Linked DNA regions of Homo sapiens. The protein of the gene in region 1 purifies or fractionates together with the protein of each later gene. This does not show direct contact. Each region holds a gene or a part of one and is shown in the gene's direction. Other genes may lie near its edges.

Region 1 (4,727 bases):
CTCTCAGAACGTCTGTTTTCTTATGGGCATAAAATATTTATTTTGCTAGAGTGCTGTGTCAGTTAAATGAGCACTTGCTACAGTGTGACTCAGAGGGTACTCAAATAATTTTCGACATTATTGGTTATTATTTCCAGTGGTAGGCAAATTATAATCATGGGTAAGCCACACATAAGTACATGTAAGCACATACACTGGAGAGAATTTAAATTGAGTTTTAAGCATTTCACAATACCTCTAAAAAATGAGTATATATAAAAATGCAAAGCAAAAAAATATTCAGACCTGACAAATGGTCTTGAAAGACTAGAAGCATACACTACAGTTTTAGATTTCATTAGCGTATCATTTAACTGAGGGGTTATAAATGTGATGGAAAATAAAATAAACACAACATAGAGGAGGAAAAACAAAGATTACAGGGAATTTTCTCAGACAATAAAATGAGCCAGGTATAGAATATAAGACCTTTAAATTCGGGTCTAGACTACTGGTAGTTTATCCCCAAAGAAAATCACCTTTGGTCTGTTTCTAATTTGGCTCTCGAATTCTACTTTCCCATACATGACTGAATTTCCAAATAGTAGCCACTGATCCATTACAAATGTAAATCACATCATTAAACTTGCATATTCCCCACTCCCCACAAAGGCTTCCCACTGTACTTGAAATAAGTGCTAGCTTTATGTCCAACAGCCCCAACTGGCAACAACCAAAATGTCCATCAACATGGCCAGTGGCTACCATATTAGATCACTATGTGGCTGACTGTCATATAGGTCTCAGCAATAATGTCATCTCCTCAGAAGCCTTCTAAAACCAATCTAAAGTAGCGCTCTGCCCCCAGCACATTGCTATTTTTTTTGGAGCACATATCGCATTATCTTAAATTATTTTATTTGTTCTCCTATTTGTATTCTATTATAATGCAAGCACCAGGAAAACTGGTGTCTTTTGTTCAATACTGCTATCACCAGTGGCTAAAACGGTGCCTGGCACAAAGTAGACAATCAATAATTATACAGTGAATACATAAACACACAACTTTCCAAATCTTTAATTACATGTTTTACAGCAGTAAACCTTGGGTGGACAAAGATACTATAATCTCAAATGACTTACCACTGGCATGCAGAAAGTTAACATATCAGGCTACTTCCTCCAAGAGGCTTTCATTGACACCCCCAGCCTGAGCTGTCTCTCATATAATTGTTTAGCATCCAGTACTTCCTCTCATCATAACTATTATATTGTAACTAAGTTACTTGTTTGTATCTCCCTCTGAACTGTTTCTTGACTGAAATAAATATGTCAACTGTTTGAATACTTTCTTCACCCGTAAGTCAGTACTTCATTTTTCTAAACCAAAGCATAGAAGAGCTGGGAAGCAATTAAGGCGCAGTAATCTAGAGGTCATATTATGCAAGGGATATGCTGTGGCTATTAGCAACAGATTCCATTGGCTTATGAGGCACTGCCTGAAGCTTCCAGGGAAACATACAGGGGAAACAGTCCAGAGGATTCAGGATGGTCTGGTACGACTCTGGACTAGCTCTATTTGGAAGGTCCAGTCCCTACACTGACCCCAGAATGACACCATAATGCAGCCCTCTCTGACATATTTGTAACTCTGCTTGCCACATAATCAGTATCCTCATCTCTTAGCACATGGTAATAACATTGTCTTTAACATAAAAGTGTACCTATTTGCAGTCACTACCTCTATCACCACCACCAGCAGAGCCTGAGCTGAGGAAACCACGGTTCTCAATACCCAGCACACCCACTTCCAACTATCTGTTAAAACATGGTGGATTACTATGAAGTTCTAGGACTGCAAAGATATGCTTCACCTGAGGACATTAAAAAAGCTTATCATAAAGTGGCACTTAAATGGCACCCTGATAAAAATCCAGAAAATAAAGAAGAAGCAGAGAGAAAATTCAAAGAAGTAGCTGAGGCATACGAGGTATTATCAAATGATGAGAAACGGGACATTTATGATAAATATGGCACAGAAGGATTAAACGGAGGTGGAAGTCATTTTGATGATGAATGTGAGTACGGCTTCACATTCCATAAGCCAGATGATGTTTTTAAAGAAATTTTTCATGAAAGGGATCCATTTTCTTTTCACTTCTTTGAAGACTCGCTTGAGGACCTGTTAAATCGTCCAGGAAGCTCCTATGGAAACAGAAACAGAGATGCAGGATACTTTTTCTCCACTGCCAGTGAATATCCAATTTTTGAGAAATTTTCTTCATATGATACAGGATATACATCACAGGGTTCATTGGGGCATGAAGGCCTTACTTCTTTCTCTTCCCTGGCTTTTGATAATAGTGGGATGGACAACTACATATCTGTTACAACTTCAGACAAAATCGTTAATGGCAGAAATATTAATACAAAGAAAATTATTGAAAGTGATCAAGAAAGAGAAGCTGAAGATAATGGAGAGTTGACATTTTTTCTTGTAAATAGTGTGGCCAATGAAGAGGGCTTTGCAAAAGAATGCAGCTGGAGAACACAGTCATTCAACAACTATTCACCAAATTCTCACAGCTCCAAACATGTATCTCAATATACTTTCGTGGACAATGATGAGGGAGGTATATCTTGGGTTACCAGCAACAGAGATCCCCCTATTTTCTCAGCAGGAGTCAAAGAGGGTGGTAAGAGGAAAAAAAAGAAGCGTAAAGAGGTGCAAAAGAAGTCTACCAAAAGGAATTGTTAAATTGACTCTTCAAATATATAACATTTGAACACAATTGTGTGTGTTTTGGTTAATCACAAATTTTGTAGATAACACTTAATACTATACTAAGAGCTTTTCAACACTTTTAGCAGGATTGTGGACATTTGGTTAGTAGTTTTTTTGAATGGGTATGTCAGAAAAGGATGAGTTTGTGGTGACAGTTGGTGCTAATAAGAATTTGCCTGGGCAGTATAGTGAGATCTTTTCTCTACAAAAAATTTAAAAATTAGCCAAGTGTGGTGGTGTGCACCTGTAGTCCCAGCTACTCGGGAAGCTGGTAGAAAGACTGCTTGAGCCTGGAAGACATAGGTTGCAGTGTAATGGGATCACGCCACTGCACTCCAGCTTGGGTGACAAAGTAAGACCCTGTCTTAAAAAAAAAAAAAAGGAATTTGGAAAACTGCAATGAGTTTTTTACTTTTGAATTTTTCTTTAGTAGAGTTTATAGCCTATTTTTCTTTTTTCTAATTAAAACCACTATACAAACTTACGAAACATGCATAGCATTAGAAGACAAGAATGTATCAAGACACACAGGTTCAGACTACACAATTATTCATGAAATGGCTGTTTTCCAATGGAGGAACAGCATTTGATGCATTATAACTTAAAGGTACTACAAATTAAAAATTAAAGTATAAAGTATTTTAAGTTAGAAATAGACTTAGCTGGGTGCAGTGGCTCACACCTGTAATCCTAGCATCTTGGGAGGCCCAGGCAGGAGGGTTGAAGTCAGAATTTCACGACAGTCCGGGTAACATAATGAGACCTGTCCTCTATGAAAAAACTTTTTTAAAAATTTAGCTGGGTGTGGTGGTACGTGCCTGTAGGCCTAGCTACTTAGGAGGCTGAGGTGGGAGGATTGCTTGAGCCCAGGAGTTTGAGGTTGTAGGGAGCTATGATCTTGCCATTGCACTCCAGCTGAGAGTGTGACCCTGTCTCTAAAGAAAAACTATAGAAAATTTAAAAAATTAAAAAACGGGTAACATGGTAAATTTTATGTAGTATATTTTACCACATTTTTTTTAAAGGCCAGTCTTATCCTGAATTCCTCAGAGCAGTCTGTATGGTAGGCCATCAGTGAATCACTCCAGACAGGAAATTTTCTATTTTTGTTTAGAGTTTGTACACAAAATCTACAAATACATTACTCTAAAATAGCACCTATAGCCATTTTAATTTAGTCATGTTGGGAGAAAAATAGATGGGTTACAAATACATCAGATATCGAGCAAATGGTTTGAGTTACATCTAGCAGCACTAAAACTTATTCAACTTTGGCCAAATACAAATGCGAAATTAGAAAAAAATTATAATATCTGCTATTTTTAAAAGACAGCTATAGTCAAGAGCTTGTGTTTTGTATCGGTATTTGATTTTTAGTGGGCAGATGGGAGAAGGAAAGGTTATTTATTCTATAGAAGAGACTGCGGACAATTAGTATTCAAAGTTTATTTTCAGAAAATAAAATAATAAAAGCCCAGGGTATTTTAAATGCTTCTAATATAAGATGTGATATTTAGTAGAGTTTATCTGTTATCATGCATGTGGTAGTAAAGTTGAAAAAAAAATTGCAATTTTCCAAAAACTAAAGCAAAAATCAGTGTCTCAGAAAATTTAAGAATGTAATGACATGCCCTGTAGTCCATTTCTTCACTCTTAACAGAAAACCAAAAATTTAGATTTAATCATCTTACTCAATAGCTTAAAATTCCTCAAAGTTTTCCCACCATCTAAAGGAAAAAGCTAATTGTTTGCTTAACATAATATACAAGGCCCTCCACGAGCCAGCCACCAGCTTTTTTCCCAACTTGATTTCCTATCAGCTCCTTGTACTCATCTTATGCTCTAGCCCAACTTCTCCCAAAATCTGTTCCAGGGATACCAGTTCAAGATTCATCACAGAAAAGGGGTCCATGGTCAAATACATTTTTACACATTTTGCAAATTACTGCGGAACACATCTCTC
Region 2 (4,046 bases), on another chromosome or scaffold:
AATGGGACTATTATTCTGAGCAAAAGAGAGAAAAACATTTTTACAAATCTTCTGGTCAATGTGTAGGCAAACTATAGACTAGCTGTTTAGTTAAATTTAAGTGTTCAGAAAAATTGGATTTGACACACATAGATACTACCATTTTTAAGCTTTTTTCTAAGGAGGACCATGATTAACCCATTCCTAAAGTGTGGAGAAAAATGTTTCTCATTAAAACAAGGTTTATGAAGAGACTGACAATTCTGAAAAAAAAAATGAAATTGAAATTGTCCAGTAATTGATCTTGTCATTCAAATAATTACTATCAGAAGAAAGACCCTTTCTCTTGCTGACCCTTGCCTAGAATCAAGAGACTGCCCTTGCCTTTGCCTGCATGTGACTTGGATGACTATTAGTCATTTTCATCAGTAGCTCAGAGATCTAAGAAAACTCTGTACAACAGATGCTACAGTTATTTTTCCTCCCCTGTGTTGCCTGTTAGTTGCAAATTAGAACAGAAGTTCCAAAAACCTTAATACTGCTTTTGGATGATGACAGGAGAGACTTCTTGAAAAAAAGGAGGATATGATTAAGGGATTTCCACAAAATCCCTTGTGGTCAGAAACCTGGAGGATGTAATATTTCTGCTTTTTTCAATATTAAAATAGAAATTTTCTTAAATAGGGAACTTGAACTGTTTAGATAGAATTTGAAAAATGTTAAGGTTATTTCTTTTGTGTGAGCTTTCTCCTTAAAAAAAAAAAAAAAAAAAAAAAAAAAGCTGGGCGTGGTGGCTGAAGCATGTCATCCCAGCACTTTGAGAGGCCAGCTTGAGGCCTCAAGAGGATAGCTTGAGGCCAGGTTTCCAAGACCAGCCTTGGCAACATAGCAAGATCTTATATCTACAAAAAACTTTTTAAAAATTTAGCCGGACATGGTGCTGTATACCTGTAGTACCAGATCCTTAGGAGGCTGAGGTGGGAGGATTGCTTGAGCCTAAGATTTCAAGGTTATAATGAGCTATGATTGCACCATTGCACTCCAGCCTGGGAGGCAGAGTGAAACCCTGACTCGAAAAAATAAAAAAGTAAAAATAAATTTAAAAATCATTTTTATGTGACTGATTTTTACTGGGTTATTCATTTTTCTCAGTACTGTAGAAATGAATTCATTGTTCTGTATTATAATAAAGTTTTGATATATGTGAATGAATATTAAAAACAGTATTCATGACATTTATACTACCTTTAGGGTGGAAAAATGGCATACTACGAAATGCGAGCTGAACATAGTGTGGATATAGATGTGGATATTGATTGGCCTATTGCAGAGCAAAGAGTATTAAGGTAAAAACAAATAAACCTTTATAACCTTTGTACTAAATCTTAATAATTATATTTCTAGATACTGATTTCTGATACTTCAGACATCTTAGGATCTTTGTAATTACTTTGTTCATGTGAGGAAGACATGTAAAATATGTGTTTACATGGCTTCAATAAAGTGAGAAACATTATCTGGCTAGACCACACTACTTTTACTTACTGTACTATATGTTAAAATATATATGTGAAGTAAATTTGGAGAGTAATGTTTGAATAATTGAATGGAGGGTGACATTTCATGTATTGGTTTAGCCAGATGAGAGGGAGTGATTAGTACTGCACTTGTACTCAAAGGTCTATTTTGGTTTCTTTTAGATATGGCTATTTTGGCAAAGAGAAGCTTAAGGAAATAAAACTTTTGGTTTGCAATATTGATGGATGTCTCACCAATGGCCACATTTATGTATCAGGAGACCAAAAAGAAATAATATCTTATGATGTAAAAGATGCTATTGGGATAAGTTTATTAAAGAAAAGTGGTATTGAGGTATGTGCTCCCTGAATATAGCAGTATTTTATAATATTTTGATTCAGGGTCAAAGAACATGCAAGGAATTAAGAGATTTAAATTTTTAGTATTAACTCTTAAAATATCTGAAATTTGGCCTTCATACGCCTAGAAAATTATTATACTATTTAGTTTTAGATGAGTAGAATTAGGAATTTGTTAATCAGCAAATAATATTTCTTGTTTATTCAGTAAATATAAACATAACTACTTTTAAATGGGAGCTATCTAATGTTTCCCAAAGGATCTTGCAGCAAGAAAGATTCCCTAGATAATAGGTGTACCATTTTAGAAAAGGACGATATCCTGTGGATTTTTAAAATCTAGCTTATTCTTATGAATGACATTTTTGATTCAAAATAACTTAACGTTTAAGTGTATTTTTTTAAATGAAAGCTAGCTAAGATAATTATAATTTACCAGAAATCCTAAATATGTATTGCTAAGCAGCACAAGAGAGAGGTTATAGACTTTCCTCTGGATAAATTGAATTATAGGAGAATCTTAGAGTAGTATCAGACAATATATGTTGTAATTTTTACCTGTAGATAGAATCCTTTCTATTGTAGAAAATAAAATACTGTGTCTCACCTTTATTGGGCTATGAGAAATAAAATGAGCTTTGTTTTAAAGCATCATGATTTTAATTCGACAGTCAGTTTTCTTACTTGGACCTTCAGAAAGTCAAAAGATGACTCGTTTGTGATTTGGACTGTCTACAAGGTCAATTATTATGAAAGATTTCTGTTTTCTTCACTTTTTAATTTTTCCCTTCTTCCTCCAATCCTTTTTTTTTTTTTTTTTAAGGTGAGGCTAATCTCAGAAAGGGCCTGTTCAAAGCAGACGCTGTCTTCTTTAAAACTGGATTGCAAAATGGAAGTCAGTGTATCAGACAAGCTAGCAGTTGTAGATGAATGGAGAAAAGAAATGGGCCTGTGCTGGAAAGAAGTGGCATATCTTGGTTGGTATCTTTTTATTCACCCATAGTAAAATGGACCAGGAATTAATTATTTACTTATTTTTAAAGAAATGACAAAGCACATCCTCCAAATGGGTATGATTGTAGGGAAATAGGAACTCTTTTAACAAACACTGCTGATCAAACTGTTAAACTGGGACAGTCTTTCTGGAGGTTAGTTTGATAATAGGTATCAAATGTAGAATGATTATTAGCACAAGCTGTGAAGTCAGACTGTACCACTGATTAGCCAGTTGTGATAAGATGAATGTTGTTTCCTCATCTGTAAACTGGAGATATCGAGAGTACCTATTACCGTAGGGCTCTGGAAGGGATTAATAAAATAATATGAGTAAAGCACTTAGCAGAATTTCTAGTACATATGAATTACACTCTGAATAGTTTTTGCTGCTAATTGAATGTACATACTTTTTCCTCCAAATTCCAATTCCAGGAAAGAAATGAGACAAATGGGCCAATAGTGAAGTTAAAAGAACCCACTTAAATGTCCTGTGAAAAATAGAATATCCCTAAAAAGGATTACTATGCAACCATTACAAACAGTGCTGTGACCTGTATTTATTTGCATGATCAAATATAACAATGTTTTTCACTTGGATATTAAGCAATACACTTACTTACCAGGTACCTATGATGATACGCAGCATGGAACTGGTTGTGGGAACTGTAGGCTTTCTGCTTGCAGAGCTTACAGTCTGATGATGTCAACATTTTAAAATTGATAAGTTATTAAGATGCATAATAACTATAAATCATGTATGAAAGCAGTATTTACAAGGGTAATATGAGCCTCAAAATAAGAAGCACAGGAAAAACTTTGGGAGCATGTGATCTAGAGACTTCAGGAATAACCCTTAAACCACACATGAAGATTTAATGGACATAAATGCTGCAGAATGTTTGTTAAAGACAGATCCAATTTTTATTAGAAGAAAATTTTAGTGGAATGTATAACAAATTCCAACTATACTTATTATCTTTCTTTGGGATGTTAAGCAAGCTTCTGTATACCTTAGTTTTCTACTTAGAATATAAACACAAACCAAATTTTATAAAGCCATTAGAAAGAAAAACAAAGATAATATAAAATGCTTAACATAGTGCCTACAGATAGTAATAAGTGTATCATTTATATAGGTAAAACTCTAGAATTATATGTGTCAAAATGTAGTGATTATCTACAAATAGTGATAAT
Region 3 (4,589 bases), on another chromosome or scaffold:
AATTTAAATTTTAACAACACTCTGGCTTCTGATTGAAGAATGAATTTGGGAGAGCATGTGTGGATATAGTGAGACCATCAAAGAAGGTGGCAAGTGTTGATATGTAGTGATCTAGGCAAGAGATTGTGCTTGTCTTAGGATTGTGTCGCTGAGAGGTAAGTAGAAGACTTTGGAAACTGCAGAGGTAAACTTTTCAAGACTTGGTAACTGGATATGATAGGTGTGTTGACTATAATTGCTATGTTGACTATAATAATTCCTTCTTATATTCAGTGTGGAGTTAAGTATGCAACTTTTGAATATTTATCTTCCTTATAATTGCCTTGCAAATTAGCTCGTAATTTAAATCAATCTACCTGCCAAACTTGGTGAGGTTTCTTTGATTATTCAAAGCTTAAAAGTTTACTGCAGGCTGGGCACGGTGGCTCACGCCTGTAATCCCAGCACTTTGGGAGGCTGAGGTAGGCAGATCACGAGGTCAGGAGATTGAGACCATCCTGGCTCACACGGTGAAACTCCATCTCTACTAAAAATACAAAAAAAATTAGCCGGGTGTGGTGGCGGGTGCCTGTAATCCCAGCTACTTGGGAGACTGAGGCAGGAGAATGGCGTGAACCCGGGAGGCAGAGATTGCATTGAGCTAAGATCGCACCACTGCACTTCAGCCTGGGCGACAGAGCAAGAGAGACCATCTCAAAAAAGAAAAAAAAAAGGTTTACTGCATAGTTTTTATTATATTTGATTTTGCTAGTCTAAAAGAGATAAAATTTTAATTCTTATTACTTTTTAGTAACTGTGCATTTTATTTTGTAGGATGTACGAAGTAGGTCCAAAGTTGTTGACCGTATTTACAGTCTCTACAAACTTACAGCTCATAAACATAAAATGAATACTGAAAGAATACTTTACAAGCAAAAGAAGAATTCTTCTATAAGCATTCCTTTTATCCCAGAAACACCTGTAAGGACCAGAATAGTTTCAAGGTAAGCAATTAAATATAGTCCATAAATTTGTGTCACTGTTCATTCATTCATTTAACAAATATTTATTGAGCACTTACCATAAACAAGATGTGCTTTTCAGTGGAGAAACAACATATGAATAAGAATGGAATGTTTGGTAAATTTAAAAGAAGCAGTCTTGGTAAATAAAGAAATAACATTATACTGTAGCTTTGGACATTTAATAGTTATTCAACAAACTTCTTATATTAAATAGTTAAGAGCTAAGGCTAAGAAGCTTGTTATAAGTTTTGTCATTTTATTTTATTTATTTTATTTTGCATGAAAGACAAACTACACTGTTTAAGAAGTGCCAAAAGTCCTTCTTAGCCAAAATATCAACCTCCAGTCCTCCCATAATCACCCTGATTCTTGAAATTTCTCCTTCTGGAAATTTAGATTGACATTTTCTGATTTTATTGGCAAAAAGATTTAATTTATTTTGGTGAACCGTCATGGCATTTAATTAGTGTTTTTACTCCCTTCCTTCTTTCTCCCTCCTCCTTTTTTTCTTCCCCCTTCTCCCTCTCTCCCTCCCTTCCTTCCTTCTTTCCTTCTTGAGACTTAGCAATTCTCTATACTAGGTACAAATCCTACATTATTGACAACACACTATTTCTTGACCTGAGTGGTTACACAGCCATTAGCTTTATAATTATACTCATAATTATAAACTGTATAATGTAGTTATAAATTGGTTTTATGCATGCATATTTCACAGCATAATGTAAAGTTCATTTGCTTGAAATATATTAATGGGACCATTTCTACATGTTTTTTAAGGACTTGGTAGAATTTAATATTCATTATGTTTTAAAAGCTCATACTAACATATGAATGGATTCTCTTAAAATTTTGATGTAGGTCAGGCTTTTGAGGTAAAATTTACTGACAGTATAAATGCATCCTTTAAATGTATGCAATTCAATTCGTTTTGACAAATGTATACAGTTAGGAAACTACCACCACTGAGATACAAAATATTTCTGTAACACAAAGTTTCCTTATGCCCCTTTGTTGTCAGTTCTCTTTCTTTATTCCCTGGATTTTGGGAACTACTGATCTGATTTTTGTACCTTTAGTTTTGCCATTTCTATACTGTCACATATATGGAATCATATAGTAGATAGCTTTTTGTGACTGGATTCTTTTCCTTAGCATAATGCTTTTGAAATTCGTTCATGTTTATGCATGGATTTGAATTTCATTCCTTTCTATCACTTAGTACTATTCCATTGTATGGTCGTACCACACTTTGTTCACTCACCAATTGATATATCTTTGGATTTTTAGCAGGACAAAATAAGATGATGGAAATGCATATAGTAGGGAATTATGTGAGAAGATGCATGAACTCCCTCGGTTTGATACTATTTTCTCAATAAGTTTGAGATTATAAACTCAACAACTCAGAAGCAGCTCAGAGGGTATGGAGGGGAAGTTTGAAAAGAGGAAAGGACCAAGATAGTCATCTTGGAGAGAAAGGGAGCATGCTGGCAATTTCAAATGCTCATTTTAGATTTGTAATTATTGGCAAAAAATAAAATCAGCTTGGTTGTGTAAACATTTTTAGTAATATGCAGCTGTATAGGAATGGAGAAGGCAGATATTTTGACTCAATTTGAAATCCAAGTAGAATTCTTCAGACTAGTTTGGTAGGAGAGAGAGACAACAGTTAATGGCATTTGCAAAGGTTTTGATAATACTGATGCACCTGAGCTAGATACACAGGAAAGTAAGGACAGCATTCTGGTGGATGTTGGGTATGTGTTGAGGCCAAATGAAGTGGAGATCTCAGTGGGGTAGAAGAACTGGTTCAATGACTGTGTTAGAGCATATGACATGGATGAATCAGAAATGGTGGATGGAGAATGGAAGTCTCAAGATTTCAGTGGTCGCACACTTTCTGATGATGACAAAGTCTAGTATGTGATCATATTAAAAAGGATTGGTTGAGGTAGAATTGAAGGAAAGTGGGGCAAAAACGGACTAGGTTGTTGGCTTTTTGGCCACATAGATGTTGCTGTTGCTGAGAACGGTGACAGTAGGTAAGAGGAGAACAAGAACCAGGTTTACAAGGAATAAGACACTGAGAGTTTGGCTGATGACCAAAAGGCAGTGGTCAAGCTAAATAGCATAAGCTTCAAAGAAGCCAGCATTATTTTTTAGAAAGGATGGAGAGAAATAGTCTGGAACTAGTGATGGGCAATAATATGAAGTTCTCCCACCTCTTTGAGCAGTTTGTAAGGGAAATGATGTGTTCAGGAGTAGCTACAATTTAGTTAAGAGAAAAAAGGTGAAGGTAACTCTAAAGAGAAGAACTTTATTAATGCCAGACTTTTTTTTTTTTTTTAACAGACTTAAGCCAGATTGGGTTTTGAGAAGAGATAACATGGAAGAAATCACAAATCCCCTGCAAGCTATTCAAATGGTGATGGATACGCTTGGCATTCCTTATTAGTAAATGTAAACATTTTCAGTATGTATAGTGTAAAGAAATATTAAAGCCAATCATGAGTACGTAAAGTGATTTTTGCTCTCCGTGTACAACTTTTAAAATCTGACTTTGTTTTAAAAAAACATAAACTGTTCATTACATTCTTCATTTTTATCATTTATAGTTTTATGCATGTAATAAACTAATATGTCATAAGATGATTATATTATTCCTGTCTATTATCTTAAAGTATTATAGTAGTTTCAATGTAATCTTATTACTAAAAGGAAATAATAGCTGATTACACCTTTTTTATAGGTAAGTTGAGGAATTTTCATAAAACAAATGTTAGAAATTGAAGTTCTGTCTACTCACTAAGAAGTGAGACTAGGATAAAATAATCTCACAAATTCATATCAATGGCATCCTTATCTATATCCTTGACTGGCTAAAGCATCCAGATAAGCAAGTGAGCCCTTCTAGGCTCACAAAAAGAATACACCCACCACTGTATTTACTAAAAATTCTTACCATTGAACTGATGGGGGTTATAATTTGAAGTGGAAGGAACATGCTATTGCTTATAATAGAATCTTGTTGTGTAGTTATACACCACAGACCTGAAAATGATTCAGTATTGAAATGTGATTTTTTTTCTACTCTTTGAGTCACTATTACTAGTATCTGTGGTTTCAGGGCCACAGATGTCTAATTCTTATGGCTGAAATCTGAATAGAGTCTCAAAGTCTGCCCATGGGAGTTAGAATCCCTGGGCTCATCCTTTTCTTTCATCACTTTGTTCAGTGAACTTAGGAGTATCAACTAACTTCATTATATTCCTTGGTTCTCCACATATGGTCAAAGGTATTATTTATAGAGACACTAAACTCCTTGCTTCTCAGGAGCAGTTAATAAGGAGTATCAAATGCATTTATTTTGCATAACTCTCTAAACAATTCACATAAAAAACTATCAGTGTTCTCCATACTATTAGAAATAGAGTCCTTAGCATTTTTGGATCTAATCAGATTAAACAGCCAACTCCAGAAACCCCAAAACCAGCTAAAGAAATCCATCCTTAAAACTCTGTTCCTCTAGAACAACTACTGGTACCAAAATCTGTATTAGTCAGGGCTCTCCAGAGGGAAAGA

What was found. Proteins that work in one complex are often made in the same cells at the same time.
Region 2: the proteins of DNAJB7 (region 1) and CMAS purify together in Homo sapiens (affinity purification with mass spectrometry, with the first as the bait; one large-scale study listed by BioGRID). This does not show direct contact.
Region 3: the proteins of DNAJB7 (region 1) and ASPM purify together in Homo sapiens (affinity purification with mass spectrometry; one large-scale study listed by BioGRID and IntAct). This does not show direct contact.

The regions. Positions count from the first base shown.
Region 1 is NC_000022.11:40,859,075-40,863,801, reverse strand, and holds DNAJB7 (dnaJ homolog subfamily B member 7), read left to right. Parts: upstream 1-1,688; 5' UTR 1,689-1,807; coding exon 1,808-2,737; 3' UTR 2,738-3,020; coding exon of another isoform or gene 3,021-3,124; 3' UTR 3,125-4,253; downstream 4,254-4,727. UniProt on the Homo sapiens protein: Probably acts as a co-chaperone.
Region 2 is NC_000012.12:22,059,602-22,063,647, forward strand, and holds part of CMAS (N-acylneuraminate cytidylyltransferase), read left to right. Parts: intron 1-1,230; coding exon 1,231-1,325; intron 1,326-1,679; coding exon 1,680-1,851; intron 1,852-2,679; coding exon 2,680-2,833; intron 2,834-4,046. UniProt on the Homo sapiens protein: Catalyzes the activation of N-acetylneuraminic acid (NeuNAc) to cytidine 5'-monophosphate N-acetylneuraminic acid (CMP-NeuNAc), a substrate required for the addition of sialic acid.
Region 3 is NC_000001.11:197,083,197-197,087,785, reverse strand, and holds the end of ASPM (abnormal spindle-like microcephaly-associated protein), read left to right. Parts: intron 1-813; coding exon 814-983; intron 984-3,359; coding exon 3,360-3,462; 3' UTR 3,463-3,659; downstream 3,660-4,589. UniProt on the Homo sapiens protein: Involved in mitotic spindle regulation and coordination of mitotic processes.